2 separate regions of the Homo sapiens genome follow, and region 2 is linked to region 1. The links come from fine-mapping of genetic effects on gene expression. Tissue or cell type: prefrontal cortex. Region 1 holds a variant in brackets; the other region holds the start of a gene. All regions are shown on one strand. Distances are from middle to middle.

Region 1 (8,344 bases):
TGAGATACTATCCAATAATTTGGGATGCATAAAACATGTTAATTCAAGCAGACATATTAGTATTCATTGCACTGCTATAGATGTGTGCCCCACGAATGGGGATTCTGATTAATTTCATTCATTATGATCTCCATTAAAAGGAAGAAATACATAATGTTCCTTAAATTGTATGTGTCATGTTGATCAAGCATTTGTTGATAAAGGAGAAATTTATTTTGACTAAGCATCAATGAGAAGGGAATGTTCCATTTGTAACTTTCTACTGATTAGTTTCTGGCTCTGAACCTTCCAAATCTTGATTCTCCTCCATTTCAACACAATTCTGGTGTCAGTTGCTCTATTACAATACAACTTCTGACCCTGCAACTTCATGTCATGTCGCCAATTTTACTAAAACATATGTCTATGTGAACACATTGCCAGGGCCACTTCCAGGGCCTCAGCTAGTAGACTCCTTTATGGGAGGGCCCCTGAAGCTTAAGCTTCCTTAGCTTAATGGAAAATCTAATACTGAACAGCAGGAACAGAAACTGGCCTGCAGGGAGTAAAGGAGGGCCCAGTGGATAGGCAATGAAGTTCCTGCAGGGGCCTGAGGAGTTAATCCAGGAAGAAATGAGCTATGGAATGGTGGTTATGAAGAGTGGTAGGGTCCTAAGAAAAGGTTCTATTTGTGGAGTTGACCTGTTATGTTTGGGGACATGAATATACAGAGAAAGAGAGAGAGAATGAGAGAGAGGAGGAGAAGGAAGATAAACAGGTGGAGGAGAAAGAGGAGAAGAGAAGACAAAAAGGAAGAGAATTAGAATAGCAGTGTTAAAATGTTCAGTCACAGACCCTGGGCTTTTTGCTTTCTCTTCCCACTTTCTTGGAGTTGGTCTACATTCCTGAAGGCTTTGTCCTTGTATTGGGAGAGGGTATTCTCTATCCTCTTGGGCTTTCCCTACAGAACATCTTCTGCCAGCACTTGGATGTCAGTCTGCATCTGAGGCCACTGCCAATGCTTTGTCCCACTTTGGCCTTTGGGCGTTGCACCCTTACCCTCTTCATTTTTCTGCTCTTAGCCATAAATCTGTCCCACATTTCTCTTGTAAAAACCTCTGAGACAGCAAGGAAAGGATTAGAGGATAGGCACAGGAGCATGCTGAGTTAAAAATGGGGTACATAATAAGCTTAAGCAGATTATCCTAATATAGATACTTTCCCGGGAAAGCAGAACATTAATGCTCTGCTCTCTAAAGCCTATTAAATAAACATACATATTATTTAATGACCCTGATTTTTGCCATTGTAAGTTTTAACACATAAATTCTTTATCAAAATTAATCATGAAAGACTGCATTGTAAATAGATTTTCTTTGGCTATTGAGGAGCTAGGTCTTTTAAGAGATTTTGGAACCTGTTGCCTAAAAATAACAACACAATTCAAAGTGCCCACATTTGGCTGTGTTCATATGCTGCCAAAAAAATTCGGAAGAAAAGTGAAAAGTTCACCCATTCATTTGGATATTTCCAAGTATCCAGATGTTTGGCATCATCCAGACTAAATGTTAGGTGACTAATTGATTGGGTTGCTCATGTTCCACATGTTTGGCATTGTATGGATAGATTCTGATTATGCTCTCAGACAGGGAAGTACAATGTGTTTTACATGCTCACATGGGACCCCAAAGCTAATGGTGTCAAATGAATTTTTCCTGTTTGACCCCCATGGGTCAAACTCAGTTCAGTTTCACTTGTATTTTTCATTCCTACAAAAATGCAGGTGCAGCTATTTTATTGCCATTAAATCTCATAAAGCACTGAAAGATTTGAATGAGAAAAACAATTCTGTTCCAGCAGAAAGCATTTCATCCTAAGGAATAAAATTTTCCTCTCTTTATTCCAGCAAATGAACAATAAAAAGTATATGAAATCATAGTATCACTGAGTCTTAGAATAAACATCAAAACTTGAATAATTTTTTTAAAAAGATGGAACTAAGAGATGGAATTTTATAAAAACAAACTTTCAGTTAGATGGTATCTAAACAAACTTTATTATTTTAACACATAAAGATTTAAAAGAGTTAAGAATATGGCTAGGTGATTTTAACTATATATAGTGACTCCTTGAGTTCTGTTTGCCTAGAGTTAATTTTTTGTCAAGTACTTCCTGGCTGGGCTGGGCTACTTATTTTTTATTGATTGTGTGTTCTAAGTGGAGCTATAATAGAAAACTAAGAAAATAGATCAATTTAGGGACCAGAGAGCTACCACAGAAGAGCTATTCGCATTAATTTAAGAGACTTGGGCCTGTGAGCATTTCCTTCAATACATCTAATGACTTAATTCAACAAATATTGTCTGAGCTGTTTTCATTTGAAGAGCCTATTTTCCTTAGTGCCTTGGGACATGTAGAGTTGAACAGGGTAAAAATCGTTCATTCCAGCTGATGGTAAGTTAGAGACTATTGGGCAGAAGCAAGCAATTTTATAAAAATACACTGTAGGGAAGAAATGGTACCTACCAAATAGACATTAATGATCAACTGTCAATACTTCAAGACATTGAGACCTGTAGGAGTTACTAACATATTCTTTAGAAAAATGAATAGAAATTAGGAATAATTTAAGGAACTTAATCCTTCTTGCTTCTGTTTGACACAGAAACCACTAAGAAGAGGGTAAAACAAAAATTGGGAATGAGAATCCTAGAATTTTTTTTATACTTGAATGATTTCAAAAGATATGCCAGCATTTAAACAAGCCTTTAAGAATCTAGTAGATTAGAAAGCATTTGAGTGATGAAGTGACAAGGACGTAAGTTGAAATCAATACAAATACAAAACCTGATGAATTGTTTCATTCAGAAGAGATCAAATTATTAAAAGATCAAGTGCAAAGGGAAAAGTTTATAGATATTAATGTGTTCTGATAAACTAAGAACCAGACAGTACATGAAAGCTTAGCTTTAGGGTGGATGACATTGCAAGTGATATGTAATTAAGGCAATAAGTTACGGCAAATGAGTAAATAACATTTCTAAGATTGATCCTCAGTTGTGGGCTGAAACAAATTGATGTAGCACAGTAAGCATGACTTCAAGAATATTTTAGGATAGGTGTGGTGGCTTATGCCTATAATCCCAGCACTTTGGGAGGCCATGGTAGAAGGATTGCTTGAGCCTAGGAATTTGAGACCAGCCTTAGGAACATAGGGAGACCCCATATGTATTAAAAAAATAAAAAAATAAATTAGCGGGATGTGGTATTGTGCACTTGTGGTCCCAGCTACTCAGAAGGGTGATATATGAGGATTGCTGCTTGAGCCCGGGAGTTCTAGGCTGCGGTGAGCTATGATTACACCACTGCACTCCAGCTTGGGTGACAGAGCGAGACCCTGTCT[CA/C]AAAAAAAAAACAAAAATAGTATTTTAACAGAGGTGCTACACAATATGCTGGAATGTGTCCAAAGTGGATCAAAGGATTCTTGCTGCAGGAAAGTGCATTCTGCTATGGAAAGTTTTAATAAAGCAGAGGTTGTTCCTCTGCTTTATTAAACTGTCTAATAAGCACACATCTAATTTAATAGAAATAAGTGTAAGACATATGTAGCTTTGGAGAGAAACTGTCTAATTTAATAGAAATAAGTAAGACATAGGTAGAGAAACTAAACATATGTAGAAATTGGAATATCAACCTTAAAATGGTTACTACCACAATTACAAGAAAGCAATTCAGTAATTGTAATAGTAATCAAAACTTCTGTGTATTGTAGTCATTTATGCAAATAGAGTTGGCTGTATATAAGCACAAATCAATACAAATGACTACATGATGGCGGGATTTATTTAGTAGAGGCCAAATTACTGAAATATCTAGCATAAAGGGAAAAAATCCATAAATACGTATGTACCTGCTATATCAAGAGAAATGCTATGAAACAACTAAAGGAAATGTGGAGGAAATATTTAGTTCTAATATGTTTAACAATACCATCCCAAGAGAGAATAAATGAAGGTGCTGCTGGTGCCTGAGTGGGATTTTAAAGGACAAATCTGGGTTTCCAGAAGGAAAGAGAAAAGACATGGAGACTTTTATCAACAAAACAGGTTTGGGTGAGGCATGCTAGAACCCCAAAGTGTGGAATGATTAGTCAAAGTAGAAAAAACTGGCACTCATAGTTGGCAGACAGTCCAAAATACAGTGCCAATAGGGGAGTGTCAAATTCCGGGTTAATTTAAGCTACTTCAATTCATGGTGACTTGATAAGTTGTAGCATTATAGCAGAGGGATCCAGGCTGCAGTAAAATTCAAAGTCAGTGGGGAACAGGGTCATATTTTAGTGGTTTGCTTGGTTTTCTGTAAGACCCTAAGCAACAGCAATTGAAATAAGAACAATGTGCAACCCTAAGGGAGGAGCAATTGGAAGGGGCTAGGAAGGCTGGCTGGCAAAAGCCCAATGAAGCAAGTTTGTTTTCAAGGAATAGTGTGGAAACTGAAAAACATATGGTTGTCCCTGCGTCCATCTAGACACCCTGAATGCTGGTTTTATAACAGCATACTACATTTTGTGCACACTTCCAGATGGAGCCCCTAATATGCTGTCTTGGCAGGATGCCTTTGAGTTGGGCCTGGATGTGATTGTATATGCTAAGAGTATTGCTAGAGATAAGAATAACTCCGTCAGACAAAGACTGAGGGGGAATGGACAGTCATGCCATATTTAGGGAAAGGGATATTAATTTCATATTCAAACCTAAATACCTGCCTACTGTCATCTTAAATTGTAAGTATCTTCCAAGATACTTACAATTTAAGATATCACCTTTTAAATTTAATTGTAAATAAGTATCTTAAATTTAAAACATCTAAACTTAAGCTGTCGGCCAGGCATGGTGGCTCATGCCTGTAATCCTAGCACTTTGGGAGGCCAAGGCGGGTAGATTGCTTGAGCTCAGGAGTTCGAGACCAGCCTGGGCAACATGGTGAAAGCCCACCTCTACTAAAATACAACAAGTTAGCTGGGCGTGGTAGCGTGCTCCTGTAGTCCCAGTTACTTGGGAGGCTGAGGCAGGAGAATTGCTTAAACCCGGGAGACGGAGGTTGCAGTGAGCTGAGATAGCACCACTTGCACTCCAGCCTGGGTGACAGAGCGAGACTCCTCTCCAAAAATAAATAAATAAAAATAAAAAAAAATAAACCTAAGCCGTGCTATTCTGCCTGAAACTAGTTCCTCCCTATCTTTATTTCAGGTAGGCGCACCCACTTGCTCAAGCCAGAAGTTTAGGAGTCATTCTTGATACACCTGCTTCCCTTACCCCTTTCATGCAATCTCTCGCCAAGCCTTATAAATTTTACCTACAAAGTACTGCTGGTCTCCCTTCCCTTCCACCTCCACTGCCCCACAGAGTTCAAGCCACCAAGTTCTCTGGACTAGATGATAGCCTGATAGGTTCTCCACTTCTCCTTCTCATCTTTCCCCAACACAGTCTCCATCGAGCAGCTTGATCATTTAAAATTGTAAGTCTGGTCAAATTACTCATCTGCTTAAAATAACCTCAAGCCTCCAATTGCTCTTAGCATAGCATTAAAATTCCCCACTATGGCTTCTGATGCTCTGCTGTTCTGCAAGATCTGGCCCTGGCTCCCTCTCCAAACTGCTTGTCAGTCACTCTTCCCTGCTTCAGGCACACTGATAATTTTCAGTTCTTTAATCACACCAAGTTTTTTTTTTTTTTTAATCAATTTAGGGCCACTTAATCTGGAATTTTTCATCATACTTCTAGGCCAAAAGAGAGACCTAGCAGTGTTATTTATTAAATAGTTATGAGCAGAGAACTTGGTATTTATTTGTCCTAACAACTTATTAGCTATTTTTAAAAAACACATAAATTGAAGAACATTTTAATTTCATTCTTAACTAATCACATTTATTAATATGATGTCTGCATCCCTTGCTTATAGCGCAGACTCTCAAACTTTGGAATCAGATTGGATACTGCCATACTCATTTTCTGTTCCACATTGTTTCTTTTCAGAGGGACGTGCTTTTTATCAGAGCAAAATATGCTTAAATCATGCTTAAAATATGCTTTGCAAAGATATGACTTCATAAAAAAATGTAGTGTGATCTAGCTCACCTTGTATCCAAAGGATATTGAGTATCTCTGGATTTCTCTCTGAAAAATTTAAGACATCTCAAAGCACCCCAGGGAGTTCACTGCAGGGCCCCAGGGTTCCTTGGAACACAGTTTGGGAACCATAGCTTTGGAGGGTTTTAGGGAAACGTGATCTGATTTGAGTTAGATTTTAACAGATTTACTTTGGCTTTGTGGAGAAAAAAACTGAAGAGGACGAAGGTAGATGTGTGAAGATCAGTTAACAGGCTACCACAGTAATTGAGAGCCAATGGTGAGAGCTAATGGTGGCCTAGACTGGAGTGGTAATAGTTGGGCAATGAGAAGGAGTGCTGCATAGATATGTTGAAGATAGAGCTTGCAAGATTCGCTGATAGATTGGATTACAGTTGTGGAGGACAGATCAAGGATAACTCTGAATTTATTGGTTTGATAACTGGAAGGATAGACTAACAATTTTAATAGGGGTAGGGGAAAAATAGGAACAGTTTTTACATGTTAAATTTGAAGGCGCTGATTAGATATCCAAGTAAAAACGTTAAATAGGAAGCCAGGGTCTGGTGTGCAGGTGAGAGTTCTGATCTAGAGATACGTACATTTGTGAATCATCACTATGTATTTGCAGGCAGGAGACTGAGTGACATCTCCAAGGGAGTTGGCTATAGAGAGGAGATATTCAAGACAAATGACAGCAGATTTATGCACTGCTGGGAGAGACTCAGATAGAGGGGAATAGATGCTGCTGCTGAAAGGGAAGAATTACTCAATAAGGAATCACGGACTCTAATCCATAGCCCTAGTTAAGGGCTGGCATTAGGAACACAGACAGCTTATACATAGGAATAGGGAAAAGAGTAGAGGATATGGGGATTAATGAAGGTAGGTATTTATATATGAAGATTATCAAAGTTCTCTTTTTATTGTTTCTGTCTTCTCAGTGAAATAGAAGCAAAGCCATCAGCTGAGAGGGACAGCAGTAGAGAAGGAGTTGGAAGTTTGAGGAGAAAGGAGAAGGGATAGAATAGCTGTCTTAGAGAGTGGAAGATCAAATGGAATAGGTTAATCATATCATTGGCGAGCATCATTGCTTACTGGAGCTTAGTGATCATGAGTCATGAATTAAAGTGAGAACACTTAGCATGGTTAAATGGTTTCTGAGCCAGGTTCAGCTTCCCTGGTTCAAGTGTGGAACAGATAAGCAGCTAGATTTAACCACTGTGACATAAGTTCAAAGTGTGATGAAGAAAGAGAGGGCAAGGGGTTTGAGGGCTTATTTGAGAGAGAGAGTATAATGATTGATCCTAGATTTTAAGTGGGTAAGTTCAGTGAAGATATGAGAGGCAAGAGTCAATGAACAGGCAGTGCAATCAGTAGGGCCTGGAGGGTTCCAAGGATGGTTACAATAAAGCTGCTAGGTTCACTGCAGCACAGAGAGTAGGTTCTTGGAATTGAGATTATACAGAGGTTGTAATTATTGGAAATTACAAGGTGGAGGTACCTATGGAGTGAATAGCCAAAGCAGGGTGTTAAACAAGATAGTGGGAGGAGGGGAGGTCAAGGAACTGTAGAACCCGGGGGCTGGACTGATCATTTACATTCACCAGTATTTGCTTTTATGATCTCTGGCATTCTGAGTTGTTCTTAGGCCCTATACACACACATACCGTAAAATAATTTTTCTATGTTTTCTTCTGTTACTTTGAGAGTTTCATTTTTTTATATTTAATTATTTCATCTCTTGGACAATTTTCTTAGAACATGATTTGAGATATTGATATAACCTGATTTTTTTTTTCAGATGCATACCTAGTTGTCTTAAAATCATCTGTTGAATAGTTTATCTTTTTACCACTGGTTTGTGATAATGTTTTGTCATAAATTAAAATTACATAATTATTTGGGCCTACCTGTGGACTTACTGTTCTATTTTTTTTTGGTCTGTTATTTACATACAAGCACCATACTCTTTAAATTACGGTGGTGTTTTAATATGTTTCAGTATTTGTTGGGCTAATTCATCTTCATTACTCTTCTTTTTCAGTGGTTTCTCACCTATATGTATATTTTTCCATATACTTTGGAATCTGCTTATCTATAAAAAACTATTAGTATTTTTAATTGTTGTATTTCATATATACATTAAGTAAAAATAATAAAAACATCTTTGTGATTTGGAGACTTTCTCTTCAAGACCTGTCCATCTGTGCCCCTTAAAGGTGCATTATTCCATT
Region 2 (8,344 bases), 170 kb after region 1:
ACAATGAAATTGTGTAAGTCTGACCTTTGGTGTTGATTCTTCTCTGAAAATGGTTGCAATCAAAAACAGCAAAGAAGACTGTGGTGGCCCAGGAAGCAGAAAATTGCTGGAAAAAGAAAAAAAAAATTGGTATCTTGTTTGATGGCATAGACAGGAGCTCCATGGTTTTCCAGTAGTCTGATGGGAGAGAGCATTTTACTTGAAAAAAATTGTGAAGGCTTTTTAAAGGAAAATCCCCCTCCAGTTCACTGTTTTATTGAACGAGGACTTTTTGAGTTCCTCTTATGTCAGCCAGTGTGTTGGTTGCTTTCACACAGATTTGCTCATGAAACTAATTTACTGCCTAGCATACTCTTTCATTAAAATATCACATAAACGTTTTTAACAAGTTTAAGTTTTTGGCAAGCAACTTATTTGATGACAGAGGCTCTATGCTGTTAGGCCACGGTAAACTGTTAAATATATTAAATGAGCACTTTCATAGCAGTTTACTCATTCCTTTATTCCCTGACTCAGCAAATATTTATTGAAGCCAAACGTTAAGAGCCAGGAAGTATTTTTGACATTAGAACTTTCAAAGTGATTGAAACAAGCAGAGAGGGGCACTTAGCCAGGTTGCAGATAATTACTTTCAGGATGGTTTTCTACAGTAGGTGATGCCTAGGGTGGGGGAGTGTTGGAAGTGGTCTAGGAGGATGGAAGAGTAAAAGGAAGGTATGAAAAGAGGAAACAGCAAGGGGCCAGCCTTTTGCATTCCAGTATAGTGTTAGTCATAGGCTTCAGGGCTCTCCTTGAGAGCATAGGTACTTAACTTTCAGAGAGCTTACTCCTGTCAGCTGAGGGCAATTCTTTGGAGAAGGGGAGCTACTGGAAGCCTTTTGCAGCCAACACTCACAGAAGCTGGGGGTGGTGCATTGGCCCAGTACAAGGTATCTGAGTGGTGCACCAAAACAGCGTTGGCCAACCACAAGAGTGACTGGGAGATGAATAATAAATATATCAATGGTCACTCCTCTTTGACAAAGCTTGAATAGGGATGTTTCCCCAGCAACATCCTTAGCCCTGTGCTCACAACTGTTATTTCTCTCTAAGCAAAGTCCACTCTCCTCTGCTGCAACTCAGCACCACCTTCTGATGTCCTCATGACTCCCTCACCCATGCATCCAGCCAGGCTTTCTCCAAATAAATGTTTGTTGAATGGATAAATATACTAGGAATTCTCTGACTGAAGAAGGAGAAAACATAATTACAGGCACAGAAAAGAGTTGTTCGAAGGCATGTTCAAAAGCTAGGACAATGAATTTATGTCATAGTGGAAGTTCAGGTCTGTTCAGAATGAAAAACAAGTGAAAATGTGCTGGTTGTATCTGATAATAATGCTAAACACATTTTTTTTCCTAAATCAAAACAGTTATTTTTGTTCAGCTCAAAATAGACTCCCAAGAATACTCCCCTCCTTACCCATTGTTTCCAAGAGAGAAAATCTGACATATTTAATCAATGGACTGAAAATGAAGTTTCCCTCTTCTCTCCCAGGCAGTGGGCTGCTGCTCTTTCTGGATATTGGGGCAAGAGACAAGTCAGGCTTGGAAGGGTGTCCTAATATTTGCAAATGTCCATTTTTCTGTCCAAGCACAGAGAAGGTAAAGAGCCAAGAGGAAATGGTTAAGAGGGCTATCTTGGCAAGCCTTTTACTCCAGAAAGAGGAAAGAATCTTCAGAAAAAGGACAAAAGTGCAAAAAGATTTCTCTGAAAAAAAAAAAAAAAAGAAAAAAGGGCAATCCAGCTTAAAAAACTTTGATGATAAGGAACTCTCTAGGGATAGATAGCTAGCAAAAAACATTCGACTGAGCTTCAGAAACAAGTTCTCTGGAAACTGAAGGACAAAACACTGGCTGGACATTCCTGGCAGTGAGCTACGGATGGCATAACATAGCAACTACATCTCCTTAGCCATTTGTTCTAGTTTGCTCTACATTAACAATTCACAACAAGAAGAGTGGAAAGTGTTAAGGAGCTACCATTTAGTGCCTCTGACACCTCAGCTACTATGCAAGTTGTTTCCTGTAGCCTACTTCATTTGATCCTCAGACTGACTTGCTATCTTCTTTGTAAAAATGAGGAAACGAGAGCTCAGAGATTCAATAATTTGCCCAGCTTCATATATTTATTGAGTGGCATGTGCTCTCATCTATGCTTAAATGTAATTATGTGTACTTAAAGGCAAATATCGTTCTCCATTTTCCACATATCCAAGATTTTAGGGATGATAGGGTTTCTCTGAGTTATGGTTGGTAATAAAAAAGAAACTTTTTCGTATTAGAGTAGTTTGAGGATAGAGCAATTATCATGTAAGGTATACTGCTCAGAGTCTATGCCCACCTCATTCAGGCCACTCTAACAATAAACACAGGCCTTTTGGCCTGGCGGGCTAGATAGTCCCTGTGACAGCCAGACTCCTCATTTGGTTATCTGTGGAGTAGGAGGGAAATTAAATATACATCTGCATCTTTTCCAACAACAAATCTTAAGAGATTATTGCTAGTTATAGCAGCAATGGTTTCTGGTATAGAAGAATAAATAGAAAACAATGTTTGGTGTATTTGAATAATTAGTTCTATCCTTTTTTCTGAAAGCTTTGAGAGTTACTTGATTTGTTTTTTATTCTTTTGACTTGAAATTGAGAGGCATATTTCTACTTTTTTGATTCTTAAACATTTAAGATTCTTCTACCTTTTATGACATAGAGGTTTAATATAATTACCTAATCATATATTTACCTGTTTAAGGTACTTCAACAGCTGTTGATGTGATGGTTTCTGTGAATTGGTAGAAAGATTTTGGACCAGTAGTAATAACTTCTCAAAAACCCTCTGTCTTAGTTTGGGCTGCTATAACAAAAATGCCTTAGACTGGGTAATTTATCAATGACAGAAATTTATTTCCTGTATTTTTGGAGGATGGGGAGTCCAAGGTCAAGGCACCAGCAGATTCAGTGTCTGGTGAGGACTTGCTGTGCTTCAGAGATGGTGCCTACTTGCTGCATCCTCACATGGCAGAAGGGGCAAATGCTGTGTCTTCACATGGTGAAAAGGACAAACATGCTCCCTTCACCTTCTTTTATATGGGCACAAATCTCATTCATGAGGCCCTCATGATTTAATAATTTCCCCAAAGATCCCACCTCTTAACACTATTGCATTAAGGGTTCAGTTTCAACATATAAATTTGGAGGGACACAAACATTTAGACCATAGCAGCCTCCTTATTTTACTTAGGAGTATATCAAGCATACTCAGCAAGAGAAGCTGAAGAGGATGAGAGCCCTCTAGCTTAGACATCACAACACCTCTATGAGGCCATTTTTCCACTCATTGCTCCTTTGCAGGCGATCCTTATGATCTGGGCATCCCTCCCCTTGAGCTGACTGTGGCTGTCGGAGGACGTATTGATAGTGGCTTCTCCTGGACCACAGCATGACTGCACAGGTTTCTCCAAGACTCTCGCCAGGGAGATCCAGAGGAGCAAGTTTGGTCTCAGGGTGCCACCAGCAGGATGTGTGGCCACCAGAGCCTGCGTTTGTGATTGGGGCTTATTATCCTATAGTGGCCCCGCAGTTTCTTTCAGGGGAGAGCCTGCTTGGCCCGTGTCTCTCCCTGAGTGCTATACTTACCTCTCATCAGCTCATTTATTTTCCAAATCTTCTCTGAGGTGCTGTTATCTTACCTAGGGATTGAAAAAAAAACTTACTTAGGGAGAAAAAAGTTATATTAATTCTGGAAATAAAAGCATTTTAAACTTCAGGCTTAAAAATTATAATTTGCTGCATATTTGAAAGTAAAACACATACAACATCTAAATGTAAATATATTTGGTATGACTTTAATGTTATCCTTCACCAATATTCTGTATGTAATTCTGAATATTTAGGTTGCCAGTGCTAGCCTTTCCCCATTTCCCTGGGTGAGATAATTATCATGGGAACTGGAAGAAATATTATACATGGCTCTTTTCTCTGAAGACAAACTTCTTATCTTGGCATAATCAGCTCGTGTTGATCGGACCCCTACCTCACTGTTTTTATAATAGTCTCTGTTTTATGATATAGCCAATGACTCCCAGGCTGTCTCTGTTTTCTGGCTCTCATCTCACCACTCCTCACTAGTCTGGTTCAACCTTCAGGACTCAACTTTGATAATTCCTCTCCCATGACTATATGATATATCCTACTCTTTTATTTGTTTGTTTGTTTGTTTGTTTTGAGACAGGGTCTTGCTTTGTTGCCCAGACTGTAGTACAGTGGCTTGATCATGGCTCACTGCAGCCTCAACCTCCCAAGCTCAAGCAGTCCTCCCACCTCAGTTTTCTGAGTAGCTGGGACCACAGGCATGTGCCACCACCCCTGGCTAATGGTTTTCTTTTTTGTTTTTTTGTAGAGACAGGGTCTCTTCATATTACCCAGGATGGTCTTGAACTCCTGGGTTCCAGCGATCTTCCTACCTCAGCCTCCCAAAGTGCTGGGATTATATGTGTGAACCCTTTCCAGCACACATCCCACTCTTAATTCCTCATTAGGTGCTTCTAGTGTACGTTACTCTCCATTGTGACACCCCTGGTGGTAGTTCTTAGGCATTATGACTTGTCAGGCACAAGTAAGAAAAAGTCAGCACTCTGGTACCAGGTACTCACAAGCTACTTTTGTTGTTGCTGTTGTTCTGGCTTATTCCCATTCCCTAATCACAAGGCTCCTCCTCAGAATGCCATCTTACCTTGCTAAATGACGGCAGAGATTGATTTCTAGCATTGTCATGTCACTTGCATGAGTTGTACTTGTTATGCGTTTCCTAGGCTCAATGTACTACTAGTTCTGTTACATCTGTTTAGGTATTTGTTTGCATGTGTACTGTTCATTGGGGCTGCACTCAGCATTGATGCTGAGTACGCTAAAGATAGTAACTTAGTTCTAGGCTTATATTGTTGATTGTCCTGATAGATGTATTGGTATGCAATTGGCTGGTTATAAAGACATTCAGAGATGTAACTATGAGCCTTTGACTACTACAAGGATGAAGAACATAATGGAGATATAATGCTCTGTAAACTTAAGAATGGTTTGTACATTTCTAAGTTGGTTAATGCAGTCTTTCATTGGCTTATTCAACAATCACTGGGCACATTAGATGTACCGAGCCTCTTTTAAGAGGGAGAATGAAAGTTAAATTAATAGTTTCTTTCCTCAAATATCTGGGAGCCTAATGGAGGAGGAGGAGGACATTAAGTTATTTCAGTAAGGTGGAGAGGCTTGATTCTCATTTTACTATCTATTCTAACACTTGTAGAAAGCATGCTTGCTCTTCAGATTTAGGCTTCCTGAAATGTAGGGAGGGCATGCTATTGGAGAATTCAGGAACTAGCAATACTTAGAACAGGCATTCAGGAAAGAGATTTCAGTTTAGGTTGGAGAAAGGGATTGAAAAGACTTGCCAGTTCCCAGAATTAGAAAGACCAGATTACCAGTGTATTAGTAAGCTATTAATTGAGGCAGAGACAACAAGGCAGAGGTTTACATAGACAACCTATGCCCAAATAGTCGGGCCAAAGGCAGGAGAAACTTGTTGCTGACATCATGTAGTATTTGACAGATTATAACCCGTCACCTGTATCTTTACTTATAAGCTGTCATAATTTAGAACTCTTGCAAAATAATTTCTTAATACATTCTTAATACATTTTCACCTTAAATTTTTTTTTGAGTTTTACTATCGTTTTCAAGTAGCAGCAGCAATTATTGTAATATTTACTCAGTGCTTAATCTTGGGATGAGTCCCCTTGGGGACTTATATGGCTTAATATAGTCAAAATTACACTTTTGTTACCATGAGTGAGTAAAGACATTATCTTTAAGGAAGCAACATCATGTAATCTGTTAATACACTGCTCTTATTCAATTTATAAGACCACTGTATACAATCAGGAGACATCTACCACTACTTCATAGGTATCGCAAGACAGAAACGGACAACGAAATCTGAGGGGTCCATAGCTTTATGCTAGTCATGCTAGATTCACTGAGATTTTGGCAGGGCAATTGATTGATTGATTAATTGATCCACTCTTTCCTCAATTATTTATTGAATGTCAGATATGGACATTATGTCAGGAATATGGCTTATTTTTATTCAAAAGAAGGAAAATGTATATTCATTAGTCTAATTTTTATCTAATAATTCCATGAAGAACAAGGTAAGTTACAGTGAAAATGACTTATTAGGATTTTAGAGAAATTTGGGGGGTTGGGGGTGAATGGAAATGTGAGAAAAAGGGAGAACAGCATACCAAAAGGGTATTATGGTCTCATTTGACTGAATACTTATAACAGTTCCACAATTGTAGAATTATGAAATATTTATGGGTACCTATTATGTGCAAATCACTATATTAGGTACAGAAAGCACAAAAACAGATTTTTTTTTTTTTTTACCGTCAGGAAGGTTTACCTCTAGTGAATTGCATTAAACATACATAAATAAATATAACATGAGATGAAGTTTGTCAGGTGTCTAGGAGATATTTGAAAGAGTACATTTTCAGCTCTTTGGGTATTTGGAGGCCCAATGGAGATGTCATTTGCACTGGTCCTTAATTACTGGATAAGTTTGGGATCCACAGATATAGAAAGAAAGAGAATTACAAGTGAAAGGAGCTGTAAGCAAAACCATAAAGACAATAAATTAAAGGACATGCACAGAACACAATTTGTTCCACTTGGCTAGAGTCGAGGGAAATAAAGTTCGAAATTCAAACTGGGGTCATCTTTAATGCCAGGCTGAAGAATTTGACCTTTATTTAATAGGCAATGAAAAATGTTGCTTATCAATGTCAACACGTAATTCGTGGCTGGATTACGCAGCAGGATTTTATCAATCTATGTCATCATGACCTCTGAAATCCAACCTTTGGTCAGGAGCATATATTGATGTCTAAGAACTTTAGGATTAACTTCCCCAGGGAAATTTATAGCACAGCTTTAGATTTGATTCTTTAGAGAATTTTTATTTGAGGCAATATAAAAGTCTGATGTGTGTTGACTACAAGTTTTAAAATAAATGGTGGAATGCTTTTGGTTTGCCAATTTCTGAAAAGTAAAATAATGACATATTAAGTAATGGAAATGTGGGAATTAAAACTTTCACAGAAAGAGCAAACAAACTCATCATTTCTTTCCTTATCTCTGTTTCTGTGTCAGGCCCCCTTCCTGGCTCATGTCTTGTCCTCCAAGATGTCCTCAGTTGCCTCTATTTCAGTTCTTTTTTCTTTCCATGAGGGGTGAGACACCATTTTAGAACTTAGTAAGCCACGCTTGGCCTCAGTGTCCGAAAATAATTGGAGTAATTTCATTTTGTTTCTTCTAGAGGGGGATCCAGAAGGTTCAGAAGTTGACCTGTTCTTTACTTACCTTTCTGTAGACTTTACCTTGTTCCAAGTCCTGCTGGGATGATAGCCTTTAATGTATTTATCACTGTGTGGTGCTCCAATAATCCACCAATTCTGCAAATTTTTGTCCTTGAATTTAGGATGCTTTTACATTTTTTCTCGGAAAACAGTTTTACCAGCTGGCAGTCTGAGTTAACTAAGTTCCATATATAAATTTATGCAGGAAGGAGAGGGAGAAGAAAATATGCAGGAATGAAAACAAATATTTGAATGCAGTGTAATAGCTCAAAGCGCGAATCCAAGATAGGTCAAGTTAGAGTGATTTTTAAAAAGATCTTCAAATTTCAGAATACTTTATGATATTCTCTGCCAAAAACTCTGGGTTTTCATCAGTGTCTTTCACCATTTTATGGCTCTTAGTGGTGTTTTGTGGTCCATAAATTTAATATATTGTCCATGCTACCTATCGTATACCCTGAGATAAATTCCCAGACCACATTGGCACACTGAGAGCAGCACATTAAATGCCTCTCCCTGATTTTTCATGCCCTTTCCATCCATCAAGCAAGCCTATACAAAATACCTTTTATGTGTTAACATGCTAGATACTCTATGGCACCACTTTTCAGAATTTATTGTGATAAAAATGAACTGGAGGTATATTATGATGCAGATTCTGAAGTCTGGGTTGGGACCTGAAGGTCTGCATTTCTAATATGCTCACAGCTATGTTGGTAGAGGGACCACACTTTGGGTGGCAGGGCTCTTTGGGATTATCTTTAATAAAGAACTCATAATATAATGGGGTCATTAGGCACATCAAAAGCAAATATAAGGCAATCTGAATACAGTGATACACATATTTCATTGAGAATAGAAAGGAAGAAAGGATTCATTTTGTGGAGAGTAG

Direction of the effects. Alleles are on the strand shown, and positions count from the first base shown. SD is a standard deviation of normalised expression in the study named.
In carriers of allele C in region 1, the expression in prefrontal cortex of the gene that starts at base 4,556 in region 2 tends to be lower than with CA alone (small effect, 0.34 SD a copy in CommonMind).

What was found. PIP is the estimated chance that this variant, and not a neighbour inherited with it, causes the effect. A credible set is the group of variants that fine-mapping cannot tell apart.
Region 2: it holds the start of LINC03071, and the variant in region 1 is the best candidate, but not a certain one, in a credible set for the expression of LINC03071 in prefrontal cortex (CommonMind, PIP 0.79).

The regions. Positions count from the first base shown.
Region 1 is chr8:74,460,078-74,468,421 of GRCh38, forward strand. It overlaps a transcript of GDAP1 not described here. Among named protein-coding and RNA genes, the nearest start is that of MIR5681A, 84 kb to the right of the region's middle. The variant CA/C (reference allele first, on the strand shown) is at 3,383.
Region 2 is chr8:74,628,777-74,637,120 of GRCh38, forward strand. LINC03071 (long intergenic non-protein coding RNA 3071) reads right to left here and starts at 4,556. Exons shown (of 7, transcript NR_183468.1): 1 at 4,459-4,556; 2 at 3,674-3,726; 3 at 25-106. All of the region lies in intron 2 of MIR2052HG (MIR2052 host gene), which reads left to right.